2 separate regions of the Homo sapiens genome follow, and region 1 is linked to region 2. A link means that fine-mapping ties the variant in region 2 to the expression of a gene that starts in the linked region. Tissue or cell type: whole blood. Region 2 holds a variant in brackets; the other region holds the start of a gene. All regions are shown on one strand. Distances are between the middles of the regions.

The links. PIP is the estimated chance that this variant, and not a neighbour inherited with it, causes the effect.
Region 1: TBC1D31 starts here. The variant in region 2 is fine-mapped to the expression of TBC1D31 in whole blood (TOPMed, PIP above 0.99). The same link has a PIP of 0.9 or more in blood mononuclear cells.

What each region holds. Positions count from the first base shown.
Region 1 is chr8:123,068,255-123,076,362 of GRCh38, reverse strand. It overlaps TBC1D31 (TBC1 domain family member 31), which reads right to left and starts at 3,656. Exons shown (of 22, transcript NM_145647.4): 1 at 3,517-3,656. The coding sequence starts at 3,593. RefSeq lists a silencer at 3,604-3,753.
Region 2 is chr8:123,124,690-123,132,797 of GRCh38, reverse strand. It overlaps TBC1D31 (TBC1 domain family member 31), which reads right to left. Exons shown (of 22, transcript NM_145647.4): 12 at 6,609-6,742; 13 at 6,111-6,290; 14 at 4,285-4,517; 15 at 3,580-3,732; 16 at 2,465-2,600. Among named protein-coding and RNA genes, the nearest start is that of TRM-CAT1-1, 29 kb to the left of the region's middle. The variant G/T (reference allele first, on the strand shown) is at 3,698.

The sequences.
Region 1 (8,108 bases), 56 kb after region 2:
CACACACACACACACACACACACATACACACAATTAAAAGAAAAAATAAAGAAGAAAAATCAAAACCAAACACGTCTCCAGAAAAATTTCAAAAAATTAGCCAGGCATGGTGCATGTGCCTGTGATCCCAGTTACTCAGGAGTCTGAGGTGGCATTATCACTAGAGCCTGGGGAGGTCAAGGCTTCAGTGAGCCATGATCATGCCACCGCACTCCTGCCTGGGTGACACTGTAAGACCCTGTCTCCAAAGGAAAAGAAAAATACGTATAGGGAAAAAAAGATGAATACAGCTAAATATTAACAGCAGCTGTCTGCAGGTAATAGCAATATGGTTAATTTTTTTCCCCTTTCTACTTTTCTATCTTTTAGACATGTTATTTAATGATTACATACTATTTTCATAACAGGAAAGACAAGAATACATGTGTTTAAAGTTACCCTTTTTGAGAGAAGGATTATATACCCTGTATCTGTTGAAAGAAAATTTATAAAATTAACTTACAGCACAAAATAACTCCTTAAAATAATATATGTGCGTATATTCTCGTCACAAAGATCAGAATAATCCCATTCTTTATTGCAACAATAGTTTTTAATCATGAAAATTTTATCTTAATTGATTTTTCATAAATTTTTGGATTTTGTTTTATTTTTTTTTTTGAGATGGAGTCTCGCTCTGTCACCCAGGCTAGAGTGCAGTGGTGCAATCTCGGCTCACTGCAATCTCCACCTCCTGGGTTCAAGTGATTCTCCTGCCTCAGCCTCCTGAGTAGCTGGGATTACAGGTGCACGCTACCATGCCCAGCTAATTTTTTGTATTTTTAGTAGAGACAAGGTTTCACCATGTTGGCCAGGCTGGTCTCAAACTTTTGACCTCGTGATCCTCCCACCTTGGCCTCCCAAAGTGCTGGAATTACAGGCGTGAGCCACTGCACCTTGCCTAGTTTTTGGATTTTATATTAGAAACATCTATCTTCATTATAATTTCATTAAAGTATACTAAATTGAATTAAGTGGATTAAACATTTTCTCCATGTGTATCTAAACATAAGGCTTTTTAGACTCACTAAAGGAAATAGCAAAATTCTTAACAATGCTTATTTTTATCTAGTCCCCAAGGAATTAAAAACACAAAAATAAACATACAGAAATGACAAGCAATATCAAAATGTTTCATGGCAACTAAACTCAGAGCAAACAACTTTTTCCTCCAGTCTTATTTTCTAGAACACTTATTACATGTTCTGGCTACAAAATTACACAATCATTGTTCAAAATATGAAAAATATAGAAATACACTAAGAAACAAATACTCAATTATAATCCTACCATGTAGATGTAATCACAATAGTGACATTCTGCCCCTCCGATTTTTCATATAAATCACACGTAAAAAATTTATTTTAGAGCAACTTCCTTTCAGATTCTCACAGATTGCCTGACAGAGTTCCTCAGTTCTCAAACACAAGAAGAATATCAAATATTTACTGAGCACCAAATGTGTAAGACAACCTGTCTGGTAAATCTGATTCTCCCCACTGACAGCCTTAGTGATTAACTTCCCCAAGGTCACAGAGTTGGTAAACGGACATTTACTTCAACAAAATACATCTGACTCCAAGTCAGTGCTCTCTGCCCGTCTAAACAGCATGAACAATGGGTTTTAACGAACACAAAGATAAGCTATGCTTTAGTGGAAGAAGCAAACAAGACATTTGGATAATCAACCCATTTCTTTCACTTTTTGAATCTTGCACATATATCTAGATATTTTGTATCATCAAGAAAGAGAAGGCGAGTGGGCTATAACTTTTAGAATGTTTAGAGAATACCAGAGGTGGGAGTGGTATTCACACAAACTCAGAATTTGAAAATGAAAAACTTGAGGAATCCCCACTTTAGAGAAAATTTTTTATTCAATGTAGTTGAGGCAGCGGCATTGATAAAGAGGCCTGACAGTAACCAGGAACCAAACAAGCTGCTGGTAAAACGTCTCGCATCGCACTTTGGATATACAGAGTAGGCACTTAAAACTGATTTGTCGGCCAGGCGCGGTGGCTTACGCCTGTAATCCCAGTACTTCGGGAGGCCAAGGTGGGTGGATCACGACATCAGGAGATCAAGACCATCCTGGCTAACACGGTCCGTCTCTACTAAAAATACAAAAAATTAGCCGGGAGTGGTGCGCCTGTAATCCCAGCTACTCAGGAGGCTGCGGCAGGAGAATCGCTTGAACCCGGGAGGCGGAGGTTGCAGTGAGCCGAGATCGCGCCACTGCATCCGACCCTGGGCAACAGAGCAAGACTCTGTCTCAAGAGAAAAAAAAAATTCTGATTTGTCAAGAAGCAACCAAAGGATCAATAGAAAAATCACTAGAGGCCGGGCGCGGTGGCTCAGGCCTGTAATCCCTGCACGTTGGGAGACTGAGACAGGCGGATCACCTGAGGCCAGGAGTTCAAGACCAGCCTGGCCAACATGGTGAAACCCCGTCTCTACTAAAAATACAAAAATTAGCCGGGCGTAGTGGCGCGCGCCAGTAATCCCAGCTACTTAGGAGGCTGAGGCAAGAGAATCGCTTTAACTCGGGAGGTGGAGGATGCAGTGAGCCGAGGTCGCGCCACTGCACCCCAGCCCAGGCGACAGAGCAAGACTCCGTCTCAAAGAAAAGAAAAATCACTGCTAGAACAAGAAACACACTGAAACAGGAACTCAAGCAATTTCCGTGAAATCCTAGGGAATTAGGAGCAATAAGATCACTCTGCGTGCAGAAATCGAAATCCAAATGGCACCGCTTTGTAGCAAAGGCTTCCAGGGAAACAAGACAGGCTGAGCCTCAAACAGGACAGGTAACTGGGAACAGAATGAAAAGCAGCGCTGGCCGTACTAGAAGCCCCCCAGCAATGCATAATGAACGCCCCAGCCCCTACATACACGCCGATATGTAAACTCCAGAGAACCGGAAGTGTGTTTTGTTCCATCGCCGTCCCCAGCGCTTAGAGGCGTGCTTGGCACACAGTAGGAGCTCAACAAATAGTTGATGAATGCTTGTGCGTCTAAACACATCCAAGGATTTAAGGATGGATAAACTGCAGCCTTTGGAAGAGGCAGAATTGTCCTGCTCTTCCACCCCGCATCTCCTCCTGGAGTTCTGCTCCAGCTGCAACTGTTAAATACTCACTGAGCACCTACTACGTGCCAGGGACACTAGCGGGATACCGTGATCATAAAAGCAGGAGAGTCCCGGTACACAGCAAAAGCCGCAAGTTCCCAGGTCTGAGAACCACCGGCCTCCTCCTGCTCCGCGCTGTCCCGGACCAGACCCCCGCTCCCAGAACTCAGAAGGGGATCTCTGCGGACCCTGGCGTCCGGAGCCATCTGTTCCACCGCAGGTCATCCAACCCAGGGATGCGGGGCAAGGTCAGAGCCAGAACCCGGAACGCTGCCTGACGCCCGGCGTCCCCTCCTCGCCGGTCTCCATCCCCTCCACAGCCCGCGCCCTCCCGCCACGGCCTTTACCCGTCCCGCGTGGCCGGGGACGGCTTGCGGTGCCATATCTTGCCGCTCTCCTTGTTGCCTAGGTCAGTGCTCTGCATGGCGAAGCTTGCCCACGACCGCCGGCGGCCCGCTGGGTAACCGTCCCAGCGCCTTCCCGGCAGGCCCAGCGCTCCCGGCCCGGGAAATTTGAGCTCCGGCCGCGGCGGCCTAGGTCCAGCACCAGCAGGCCGTACCAACCCCCTTTCTAATAACAACCAATTGGAAGGCTGATCCCTCCCAAAATCCGCCCAAGCGGCCACTCCCTCTCTGGACAATGTAATCGACCAAAGACCTTCTCTTAGAGTCCACCTCTTTCTGAGCTCAGTCTTCCCGCCCCCGGACCCAAAGCCTTCTGGGAATCGTAGTTTTTTGCAGGTGGATCATAGACGCGAGGAATTGGCTTGGGAATTCCGCCCTTTGGGAGCCTCGTGGGGTTTTAGGCTCCCATCAGAGGCAATAAAACTCATTTTCTCCTGTGGTCCCTGCATTCCGTTCTAAATTGCTTTTAGGGATTAAGGAATTGTATAGAAATAACTAAGAGAAGCAAGGAAACAAGTGCAGAGAAGCAAGGAGACAAATACATTGAGAACTGATGGGTTCCTTTCATAGAACGTTCGGGCTCAAATGAAACTTACAGATGAAATAGTTCATTCTTCCTGACCTTTTCACCATCCTCATGGTTTTGTTTCGTTTCTTCAGTTTCGTAATCTGACAGGCCTTCCAGCATTATGATGTCCAGTCCACCAATCATGGTCCAGAAAAGCAATAATATCAACAACTGGCTGCCTCGACTTTAGCGTTCCTTTGATAAAAATTCACTTAGTGCCTCCGGAGCGCTTACTAGGTATGGGGCACTTTTCTACTATACCGAATATATCAACTCAATTAATCCTCGTAGCAAATTTACAAGTTAGGTAGTACTAATTATCTCCATTTTTAGTGCTCTATGAGGTTGTGCATTAATTTCCTGAGGCTGCCCTCACAAATTACCACAAACTTGGTGACATAAAAAAACAGAAATGTATTCTTGGGAAGTTCTTGAGGCCATACATCGGAAATCAAAGTGTCTGCAGCCTCCTTTCAGGCTCTAAGCAAGATTCCCTTACTTGTCTATTCCAGTTTCTGGGAGTTGCTGGCGTTCTCTGCTTGTGATCGCATCGCTCCATTCTCCGCTTCCATCTTCACACGTCTTTCTCCTCCTGGATGTATCTTTTCCTCTTCTGTCTGTTTCAAATCTCCCTCTGTTTTTCTCTTATAAGGAAACTTGTCATTGGGTCCATATGAATAATACAGGAATACAGGATGATCTTTTCATCTCAAAATCCTTAACTTGATTACATCTGCAAAGACCCTTTTTCCAAGTAAGGTAACAGTCACGGATTTTGGGATTAGTATGTTGACATATATTTTGGGGGGCCACCAATCAACCTGTTACAGGTAAGTACTAATATTATCCACTTTTGCAGACAAGGAAACCTTAAATCTTTCCATTCCTAGTCTCTATGTTGTTCTACAACAGAAAAATGATGTTAAAAAAATTATATGGTCGTGGTATTTGAAAAGTTCAAACTCTTGATCAGAAAAGCAAATTCTCAAAAAAAATACTAATGCAGGTTTTTAAACTTTATGTTGTTATCAAGGGGTGGCTCTGAGAGATCAGACAACTTGTAATGACCTATTGCAGAGGAAGCAACTGCAGCTCTTATTTTTATTTATTGGTTTTGAGATGGAGATAAACTACATGTATCAATGTTTGCATTATTATTTAGGAAACTTAGAATCTTAAATTTAAGATACAGTGCCTAACCTGAAACAGATTATTTCACAACATTTCTATCCCACACCATTAACCAAACAACCTTTTTTTATCGGAAGCAAAGATGAATCTGCTGAATGATTTTCTTAACTTCTCTAGCTTAACCTGTCTGCAGCTAAGCTAGTTTGGGCTGTCTCAGCCCATGTGGCCATCCTATTCAATCTCAGATATGTGATAAAGAGGTTTATATGTTAGATCTTCTGGACTCCCACTTTGTACTTATCTTTTGATTTAGGGGGCACAATTTGAAGGTCAGGCTGAAGAGATGTGTACCCACAGCTGCTAAAGTTCTACTCATTAGATCTCCCAGTTTTTACAACACTAATTGGTAGTCTCTTGTGATCTAGTTCCTTTCTGAATTATTAGTCACTCAATAACAGGTACATACTATTTATATGTATCTATCTGTATATATACAGATAAATAATGTACAGATAAATATATATACATATATATTTGGATATCCAAATGTATATATATGGATATACACACACACATGTATACACTTACAACACTAATTGGTAGTCCCTTATGTTCTAGTTCCTTTCTGAATCATTAGTCACTCAGTAACAGGTACATACTATTTTTATATATATATATATATATATATATATATATATATATATATATATATACATACACACACACATATGTTATATATATAAAATATATATACATATATAAAGGTATCTATATGTATAAAAGTATATAGTATAAGTATACCTATATACCTATTATATATATGGTATACTATATACCTATACTTTATACCTTTATATATAAAGGTATACTACATACCTATTTATATATAAAGGTATACTATATACCTATTTATATATAAATATACCTTTAGTATACAGTATACCTTTGTATAGTGTAAAGGTATACTATTTATATGTACTTTCATATGTATTTATAAAGGTACACAGTATGGACCTTTATACATTTGTTTGTTTGTTTGTTTGAGATGGAGTCTTGCTCTGTTGCCCAGGCTGGAGTGCAGTGGCGTGATCTCAGCTCACTGCAACCTCTGCCTCCCAGGTTCAAGTGATTCTCCTGCCTCAGTCTCCCAAGTAACTGGGATTACATGCTTGCGCCACCACGCCCAGCTAATTTTTGTATTTTTTTTTTTTTTTTTAGTAGAGATGGGGTTTCACCATGTTGGCCAGGCTGGTCTCGAAATCCTGACCTCAAGTGATCCACCCACCTCGGCCTCCCAAAGTGCTGGGAATACAAGTGTGAGCCACTGCACCTAGCCTATATATATTTATGTGTGTATATATATAAATACATACACACACAAATAATATGTACCTTTATATATATTTATGTACATATAAATAGTATGTACTATATAAATAGTATGTACATATATAAACAGTATGTACATATATACATATATATATTATATATACACATATGTACCTGTTATTGAGTGACTAATGATTCAGAAAGGAACTAGAGCAGAAGGGACTACCAATTAGTGTTCCAAGTATATACATATAAACAGTTTTACTGAGAAATAATTGACATTCAATAAACTTTACATATTTAAAGTGTACAGTTTTATAAGTTTTTAGGTAGCTAACCCCCCCATGAAACCATCACTATAATCAAGATAATGAAAACATCCATCATCCCTAAAAGTTTCCTCATCTCTCTTTGTAACCTTTCGACTCCCACCCCACTTTGCCCATGAGCAACCACCGATCTGTTTTCCTTTCTTTAGTTAACATTTTCTAGAAATTTATATAAATGGATTCATAGACTACGTGTATGTATTGTACTTTGGTGTCTTTCCTTTTTTTTTGTTGGTCTGGTTTCTTTCATTCATCATAAATTTGAGATTATTTTGAGATTCAATTGTGTTTTTGTATGTATCAGTAGTTATTCTTTTTTATGGCATCAATTGATATGGTTTGGGTTTTTGTCCCCACCCAAATCTCATCACGAATTGTAATCCCCACATGTCAAGGGTGGGACCAGGTGGGAGGTGATTGGATGGATCAGAGGGGCAGCTTCCCCCATGCTGTTCTCATGATAGTGAGTGAGTTCTCACAAGATCTGATGGTTTTATAAGGGGCTCTATCCCCTTCACGTAACACTCTCTCTTGCCTGCTGCCATGTAAGATGTACCTGTTCCCCTTCCACCATGATTATAAGTTTCCTGAGGCCTCTCCAGCCCTGTGGAACTGTGAGTCAAATAAACCTCTTTTCTTTGTAAATTACCAACTCTTGGGTATGTCTTTAAAGCAAAGTGAAAATGGACTAATACATCAATATACCACAATTTTTTTTTTGAGACAGGGTCTCATTCTGTTGCCCAGACACGAGTGCAGTGGCATGACCATGACTCACTGCAACCTTGACCTCCCAGGCTCAAGGGATCCTCCCACCTCAGCCTCCTGAGTAGCTGGGACTACAGGTGTCACACCTGCCTAATCTTTTGTATTTTTTGTAGAGACAGGGTCTCACTGTGTTGCCCAGGCTGGTCTTAAACTCCTGAGCTCAAGCTATCCACCAACCTCAGCCTCCCAAAGTGCTGGGATTACAGGTGTGTGCCACCATGCCTGGCCCAATATACAACAATTTGTTTATCCATCCATCTGATCCACCTGGTGATGAACACTGGAGTTGTTTGCAGTTTTTGGCTATTCCGAATAACACTGCTGTGAATGTTCTTATGCAAGTCTTAGTATGAACGTGTGCTTTCATTTGTCTTGGATAAACCCTAGAAGTGGAATAGTTGGGTCATATG
Region 2 (8,108 bases):
AAAATTAACAAGCTTTAAACAAAACAAGAAGTATCATGCTATAAAGAGATGATAGATTTCTAATACTATTGAATTAAAAATACTTTGAAAGACTTAGGCCAGGTGCCTGTAATCCCAGCACTTTGGGAGGCCAAGGTGGGCAGACCACTTGAAGTCAGGAGTTGAAGATCAGCCTGACCAACATGGTGAAACCCTGTCTCTACTAAAAATACAAAAATTAGATGGGTGTTGTGGCAGGCACCTGTAATCCCATCTGCTCAGGAGGCTGAGGCATGAGAATTGCTTGAATCCGGGAGGTGGAGGTTGCAGTGAGCCGGGATCGCACCACTGTACTCCAGCCCAGGTGACAGAATGAGACCCTGTCTCAAAAAAAAAAAAAAAAAAAAAAAAAAAAGACTTAAAAAATACTTAGTATTTTATCAAAACTAGGCTTGAAACTCTAAATTAGTGCATAAAGTCAGTGTAATCCTAATAAAAATTCCAATAGGATTGGGAGAGGTGAGAATTCCAAAAGTGAAACAATTCTTAGAGTCTACTTGGAATGATAAACATTTGAGAATACTGAGGAAAACTCTGAAAAGGAAGACTAATGAGTGAGAACTAGGCCTAGTTGGTAAAACACTTCAAAGCTACTGTCATTCAAACAGTGTGGTACTGGCTTAGGAATAGAAAAAGCGAGGAAGGAGATCAAATATGTAAGAGAATTTAATATGTAAAAACCATCAGTTGGCAAATGACTTGGATAATAGTCAACAAATGGTGTTGGGACAATTGACTTGCCTTTTGGAAATAAGTAAGCTAACCTGACAGAAAGTTAAGTCTAACTTGACAAAAAGATGGACAAATGATACAAATATGTAATGTGTAATTCTACACATGGAAGATAAGTAACAGAAAAGATACTTAACCTCACTAACAATAAAAAAAGGCAAATTAAAATAGACGATTTGTCATCTATCTGCTTGGCAAATATTAAGACTGATGCAGTACAATTGACTATACTAGGGAGTGGGTACTCTTACAGACTTAAAACAGCTGAAACTGTTTCATTTTTAGAGAACAATTTGTCATAATTTAGAAGTTACTCAACAAAAGTATGTGTGCAAGTACTCAAAGACTTTTACAATGTAGCATGGTTTTGTAATTTGCAAAACACTGCAAATAACCGAAATGTCCAATAGCAAAGGATTAAATAAGCTATTAATTCAATGGAATATTATACAACCACAAAAAGAGAAATAGATACACATATAACAAATATGAAAAGATATTCAGCATATGAAATTTTAAAAAGCAGGTTACAAAAACAATGTATAATGAGAATAATCCCATTTTTGTATAAATATAGGAAAACATGACTATAATTACTCCTCTATCTATAGAACATACCTGAAAGTCTATGTAATTAACCTTTTTTTTTTTTTTTTTTTTTTTGAGACTGAGTCTCACTCTGTCGCTCAGGCTGGAGTGCAGTGGCATGATCTCGGCTCACTGCAGCATCCACCTCCCAGGGTCAAGCAATTCTCCTGCCTCAGCCTCCTGCGTAGCTGGGATTACAAGCGCCTGCCACCATGCCCAGCTAATTCTTGTATTTTTAGTAGAGACAGGGTTTCACCATGTTGGCCAGGCTGGTTCCGAACTCCTGACCTCAGGTGATCTGCCTGCCTCGGCCTCCCAAAGTGCTGGGATTACGGGCATGAGCCACCGCACCCAGCCAATTAACCATTTTTTAATAGTGTTTCTCTGGGGATGACATGAGAACTAATGGAGAAGGTCAATTTTTAATTCTGTATGTTTTGTACTGGAAATTATTTTTATACTGGCCACAGATAATTTTTATATGAAAAAAGAATATGTCCCCTAATTAAAAATTAACTGCCGGGCTTGGTGGCTCACGCCTGTAACCCCAGCACTTTGGGAGGCCAAGGTGGGCAGATCACCTGAGGTCACGAGTTTGAGATCAGCCTAGCCAACATGATGAAATCCCGTCTCTAAGAAAAATACAAAAATTAGCTGGGTGTGGTGGCGTGCACCTGTAATCCCAGCTACTTGGGAGGCTGAGGCAGGAGAATCACTTGAACCCGGGAGGCGGAGGTTGCACTGAGCTGAGGTCACGCCACTGCACTCCAGCCTGGGCAACAGAGCAAGACTCTGTCTCAAAAAAAAAAAAAAAAGAAAAGAAAAGAAAAAATAACTTAATGGCTAACTGATACTGATATTTCTAGTTTTAGAGAAATAGTCACCAAGGACACTTGACTAATTTTCCTGGCATTTCTTAAATATTTAGCCATTCATGAAATACAAAAGAGAATGAGAAAGCTGAGGGGAAAAGTAAATAAAATTAAAGCGGCTATTTAGTATTCATGGTGGACTCTAAGAATATTATTTAATTTGAAGGTGTTCATTACATTTAAGTGAGAGTAAATGGAGATGATGTATGAGAACTAAGTTAAGAATAATAAACCTTTCTCCCAATTTCATCATCCAGTCTTCTTAGTTCCATTTCCTGTTGATCTTGCTGAAGCTTCAGAAAACGCCTTCTTGCAGCATCTTGTAAGTGCATTTCCTTTACTTTCAGCTCTCTTTTCACAGCAGCTAGCCTTAAATACAAAATACATCAAGTGGAACAAATACAGCAATTCCTAATATGATTTAGTTTTTTCATAACAGGTCTGCCATGCTGATCATTTCAATACAATTGATATCCTTTATTTGAAAGAAGAATGCGAGAACTGCTCCACCGTTACCAAAGATGATGTATACTTATGCTTTAAGAATTTTAGTAGAAAGCTCACTGGCTCAGTTCAGTAATTCCTTTTAACCCACACTATAAATCTGTTACATAAAGTTCCATCTAAGAATAGGAATCAATAAACACAGAAGTGAGTTTCCCAACTATTGGGCTTAGTCTCAATGTTTATCCCATTACTTTACTTAATTTACACATTTTACCTTATTAACATACTTTTATGTATTTATTTTTAAGTTTTTTCTTTTTATTTTTTAAGAGACAGGGTCTCACTATGTTGCCCAGGCTGGCCTTGACCTCCTGGGCTCAAGTGATCCTACCTAGTAGCTGGGACTATAGGTATGTGGCACCACACCCAGCTAACGTACTTTTGAATACGCATTTAATACTCATTCCCCTGTCCTCCAAAGTGTTAAATGGGTAATGACATAATCATTCTATGTTACAACTGTCAGGTCACACAGGTATGTTTAAAACACAATTAAAAAAATTATACTCTACTAAAGGTGATGTACCTAGCATTCTATTACAAAGCATTTCTGCCCACTATAGAATAATGTTTCTAAATAATGTCCTTCAAGGAACATTAATCCATGCAAAGCTATATTATATTCAGCATAGCTTCAGAATTACATTTTACTACATAGCAATTTTTTTTGAAAAGTGGTATATAAAGATTCTTTTTATTAACTTAATAGTTGCTTTATAGAAATGCTACAGCTGGGTAATCCTATATATAATGTTGTTTCTAAAATGAAAAAATGAAAGAACATAAAAATTATTCAACTAACTTATATGTCCAGATTTTTTTTTAAAGTGATAACACATACCTCTGTCTTTGTTGTATCATTTTCTCCTCCTCTTGTAAGAGCATTTCTCTTCTTGTTTCTTCAGCTTTACGAAGCAGCTCCTGTTTCTGGTACCAAGCTTCATCTTCAACTCTTTGCT[G/T]GTCGACTTTAGCTTGCATATCTTCAACTGTCTGCCTTAAGTAGGTAATATTATTATGAAAACACAAAGAAGAAAGCTAAGAATCATCAAAACACAAAATGTATACCGATTAATGTATAATCTATTTTATTTCCATATGCAAGAATTAACTATCTTTAATATTTCTAGCCTTCAAACTCTGATTTTACACAAATACTCATAATTTAAATGCATTTTTTTTTTTTTGAGATGAAGTCTCACTCTGTCGCCCAGGCTGGAGTGCAATGGCATGATCTCCGCTCACTGCAACCTCCTCCTCCTGGGTTCAAGTGATTCTCCTGCCTCAGCTTCCTGAGTAGCTGGGACTACAGGGGCGTGCCACCATGCCTGGCTAATTTTTTGTATCTTTAGTAGAGACGGGGTTTCACCATGTTGGCCAGGCTGGTCTCGAACTCCTGACCTTGTGATCTACCTGCCTTGGCCTCCCAAAGTGCTGGGACTATAGGCGTGAGCCACCGCGCTCAGCCAAATGTATTTTTCATTAAAACTTTCTTATGTTTATAACATATTTCATTGTATCAGAAAAAGAAAAACTATTCCATAATTACCTCTCTCTTAAGTAATCCAATTCATCATTCCTTATTCTTTCTCGTTCCTGTGTTTGATAGTCCACAATAAACTTTGGATATTGATTAAATACTGGATACTGCCCTTTTGTCAGTGCAACAAAAACATTAAGCATGCTGTCTGGATGAATGTCAGTAGGCGTGGTCTCCATGAGATGATAAACTTGTCTAATCACAACATTTATATCCAGGTTATTCCGATGGTGAAAAAAAAACTGTAAGAAAACTTGGTGTTTAAATCGAGATTTACCTGACAAAGCAATTATGAGGTAGAATTAAAACAAGAATTTAAAAAAAGTGTATCTATCTTTAAGAATATATATTTTTTTGCAAATTCATTAAAGCTTTTCTTTACTCAAGTTTTACAACAAAGACAATTTATTTAAAAAATGTAAGAGTTTCACAATCATAAGAAATTCTGACATAAAATTAAAAAATGAAGGCTTTTCTTACAATAGAAAAAGAATGCTTCAACAATGGAACAAACTCTGCTTGGATTTTTTTTTTCTTCAAAATCCAAAATAAATTATAAATTAGCCTTTGAAAATAAATTAGCTTGCTTCTTTAAAAATATCTAAAAAGTTTCCACATTATCTTGTTTTGCTGGAAGATCCAAATTAATGTATCACAGGATCATGAAGTAAAAATAAAGTTTAATTGGACAGTAACCACTAAATAAGTAACACATACACACACACACAAGAACCCAACTAATTCATCTTGTCTACCAAAAGAGCGTCTACTTTTTATAATGATCTTAATGCTTTCTTTCAGACACTTTCCTGCCAAGTCTCAAAACTCTCATAGTTACCTTTTGCATGTGTAATAAGCATTCAGACCCTCTAAGACCAGATGGGTCATGATAAGATTATGCACAGAATAACAGAATAACCTGTTAAACATCCTTTATAAAAGCAAGAAGCAGCCGGGCGTGGTGGCTCATGCCTGTAATCCCAGCACTTTGGGAGGCCGAGGCAGGTGGATCATCTGAGGTAAGGGGTTCGAGACCAGCCTGGGTAACCTAGTGAAATCCTGTCTCTATTAAAAATATAAAAAACTTAGCTGGGCGTGGTGGCGGGCACCTGTAATCCCAGCTACTCGGGAGGCTGAGGCAGGAGAATCTCTTGAACCCGGGAGGCAGAGGTTGCAGTGAACCGGGACTGTGCCATTGCACTCCAGCCTGGGCAACAGAGCGAGACTCTGTCTCCAAAAAAAAAAAAAAAAAAAAAAAAAATGCAAAAAGCACAAACCCCAATATTATCATGATTCTTTTCTTAAGCTATGATTATAAGACTACTAGCCTGCTATAATTGCCTACTTTATTGTCTATAAACTGTACACAGGTAGGGATGTGGTCTAACTTGTTATCCTTTATATTCCTACTACCTAGCACCAGTGTCTGACATATAACAGGGACTCAATAAATAAATGGATTTTTCAATTGAAATAACTGATATGGCCTGGCACTGTGGCTCACGCCTATAATCCCAGCACTTTGGGAGGCCGAGGTGGGTGGATCACGAGGTCAGGAGTTTGAGACCACCCTGACAGCATGGTGAAACCCCATCTCTACTAAAAATACAAAAATTAGCTGGGCATGATGGTGCGCACCTGTAATCCCAGCTACTCAGGAGGCTGAGGCAGGAGAATCGCTTGAACTTGGGAGGCGGAGGTTGCAGTGAGCTGAGATCGCGCCATTGCACTCCAGCCTGGGCAACATAGCGAGACTCTGTCTCAAAAAATTAAAAAAAAAATAGAGAGAAATAACTGATATTTGAGAACCTTCTCTTAAGAACAAGGACCGTTACCTCAAAGTCATCTTTAAGATTACAGCTGAGCAGAGGCGTTCTAGAACATATGTTGTAGGCTACAACAGTCATCAGAAGGAAGGAAGGATGGTTGGAAAAGATATTATCGAACAATTTCAGCCACTCCTCTCTTGTCAGCACTTCTGAGAACACAGTTTCAAGAAGAGGCCATGCATATAGCTAAAACAGATAAGGAAAAATTTATTATTTTTCTAGGGAAAAGTAAAAAGGGAGTCATTGGTAATATTCCCTTACATTCGATTTAAGCTATGAAAATCATATTAAATACATAATTATGAAAATAACTACCTTAATTTGGACCCTTCTTTACAGACTTTCAGGAAGGCAGTTTAATGAAGAAAAAGAATGGAATACTGTTAAAAATACAACATGTAGTATGCTTTTTATTATACTCCTTCAAGAAAAGACTGTTTATACCAGAACCAATGTTAGCTTACAAAATAAGGCATGTTATTCTAAAAACCTTATGCTTCTTACCTGGGAGGTTATATCATGATCTATGAAGTGTTGCAGCAGTTCCTTGTCATGAAATGCCAAAACATTTTCTATCATGCTAAGAATATTGATAGGAGGATTAGGAAAATATTCAAACCAGTGTTGACACCAATTGACTATGAAGGAAAAAAAAGAAAACATATCTTTAAATATCTTTCCATGTTATCAAAACTCTTTGCAATTCTTAAATGTATCCAATCTTTATGTTCTCAATATGTCCATGAATAATAAAAAAAAACTCTTTATATTGTATGACAATCGATTTTAAAATCCTATCATGTTAACATAGTATGTTTACAGAAATTTTGCAAATTTCCTTACAGTAGTCAATGAAAAAGTGTTAATTAAAACAAACAATCACAACTTCCCAAAGTACTCCTGATGGCATTCTGGCTCCTGACTCCTGCTTTGTTCATCACCTGATTAACGAAATGATCTTTTTAAAAAGGGCCCCTATTTAACCCTTCATTAAATGTAATCAACATTAGCATGCCAATCTCCTCAAATCTACTAAAATTCACATGTAATCAAAATTAGAAAACTTAAGGAAAATGTTCAAAATTACATCAGCAATATATAAAAACAAATGTGTATATACTGTATCCCTAATCCCTTAAACATTATAATGACAATAAAAATGTCCTCATTCTGAGGAAAAGACTGATTGTTCTATAAGCATGGTAATAAGGAATAACCAGGAATAGCCACCAGGACTGGTTTTATATCTAACTGATCATTGACAACTTGTTTCAGTAAACTTGACTTGAAAACCAACCAATCGGTAACAGTGGCATTCTTTGAAAGTCAGTTAGTCCAAAGTAGAATATATTCAACTAACTCTAAGGCTGACTTTGACTCACTTGCACTCTGTAATCAGTAGAACGACCCACAGATTGTTCTCAAAGCCGTATATAAGACCATCGGTTTGTTTTGTTCAATAAGACTATGTTTAACTTAATTTTAAAATTTTTTTAATTTTAAATATTGAGTTGTAGATTCATCCTTTGATAATAAGATCTCCTATCTCAAAATAGCAAAAGAAGGCTTTATCAGCAGAATATTAGATTACAGTGGTTTATAAGAACTTTCCAATTCTGGAGTTCCATTATTTCACTTATTATTGATTATTTAAATTTGAGTTAATAATGAAGTCAGAAATAAAATCTTGCAAAGACTGAGCTTTAAAAAATATTTCAAATTCTCTGTAGCTCTTAATTTTTTTTTTTTTTTTTTGTGAGACGGAGTCTCACTCTGTGGCCCAGGCTGGAGTGCAGTGGCGCGATCTCGGCTCATTGCAACCTCTGCCTCCCGGGTTCAAGTGATTATCTTGTCTCAGCCTCCCAATTAGCTGGGATTAGAGGCACCTACCACCATGCCCAGCTCATTTTTTTTTTTTTTGTATTTTCAGTAGAGACAGGGTTTCACTATGTTGGCCAGTTTGGTCTCGAACCCCTGACCTCAGTTGATCCACCCACCTTGGCC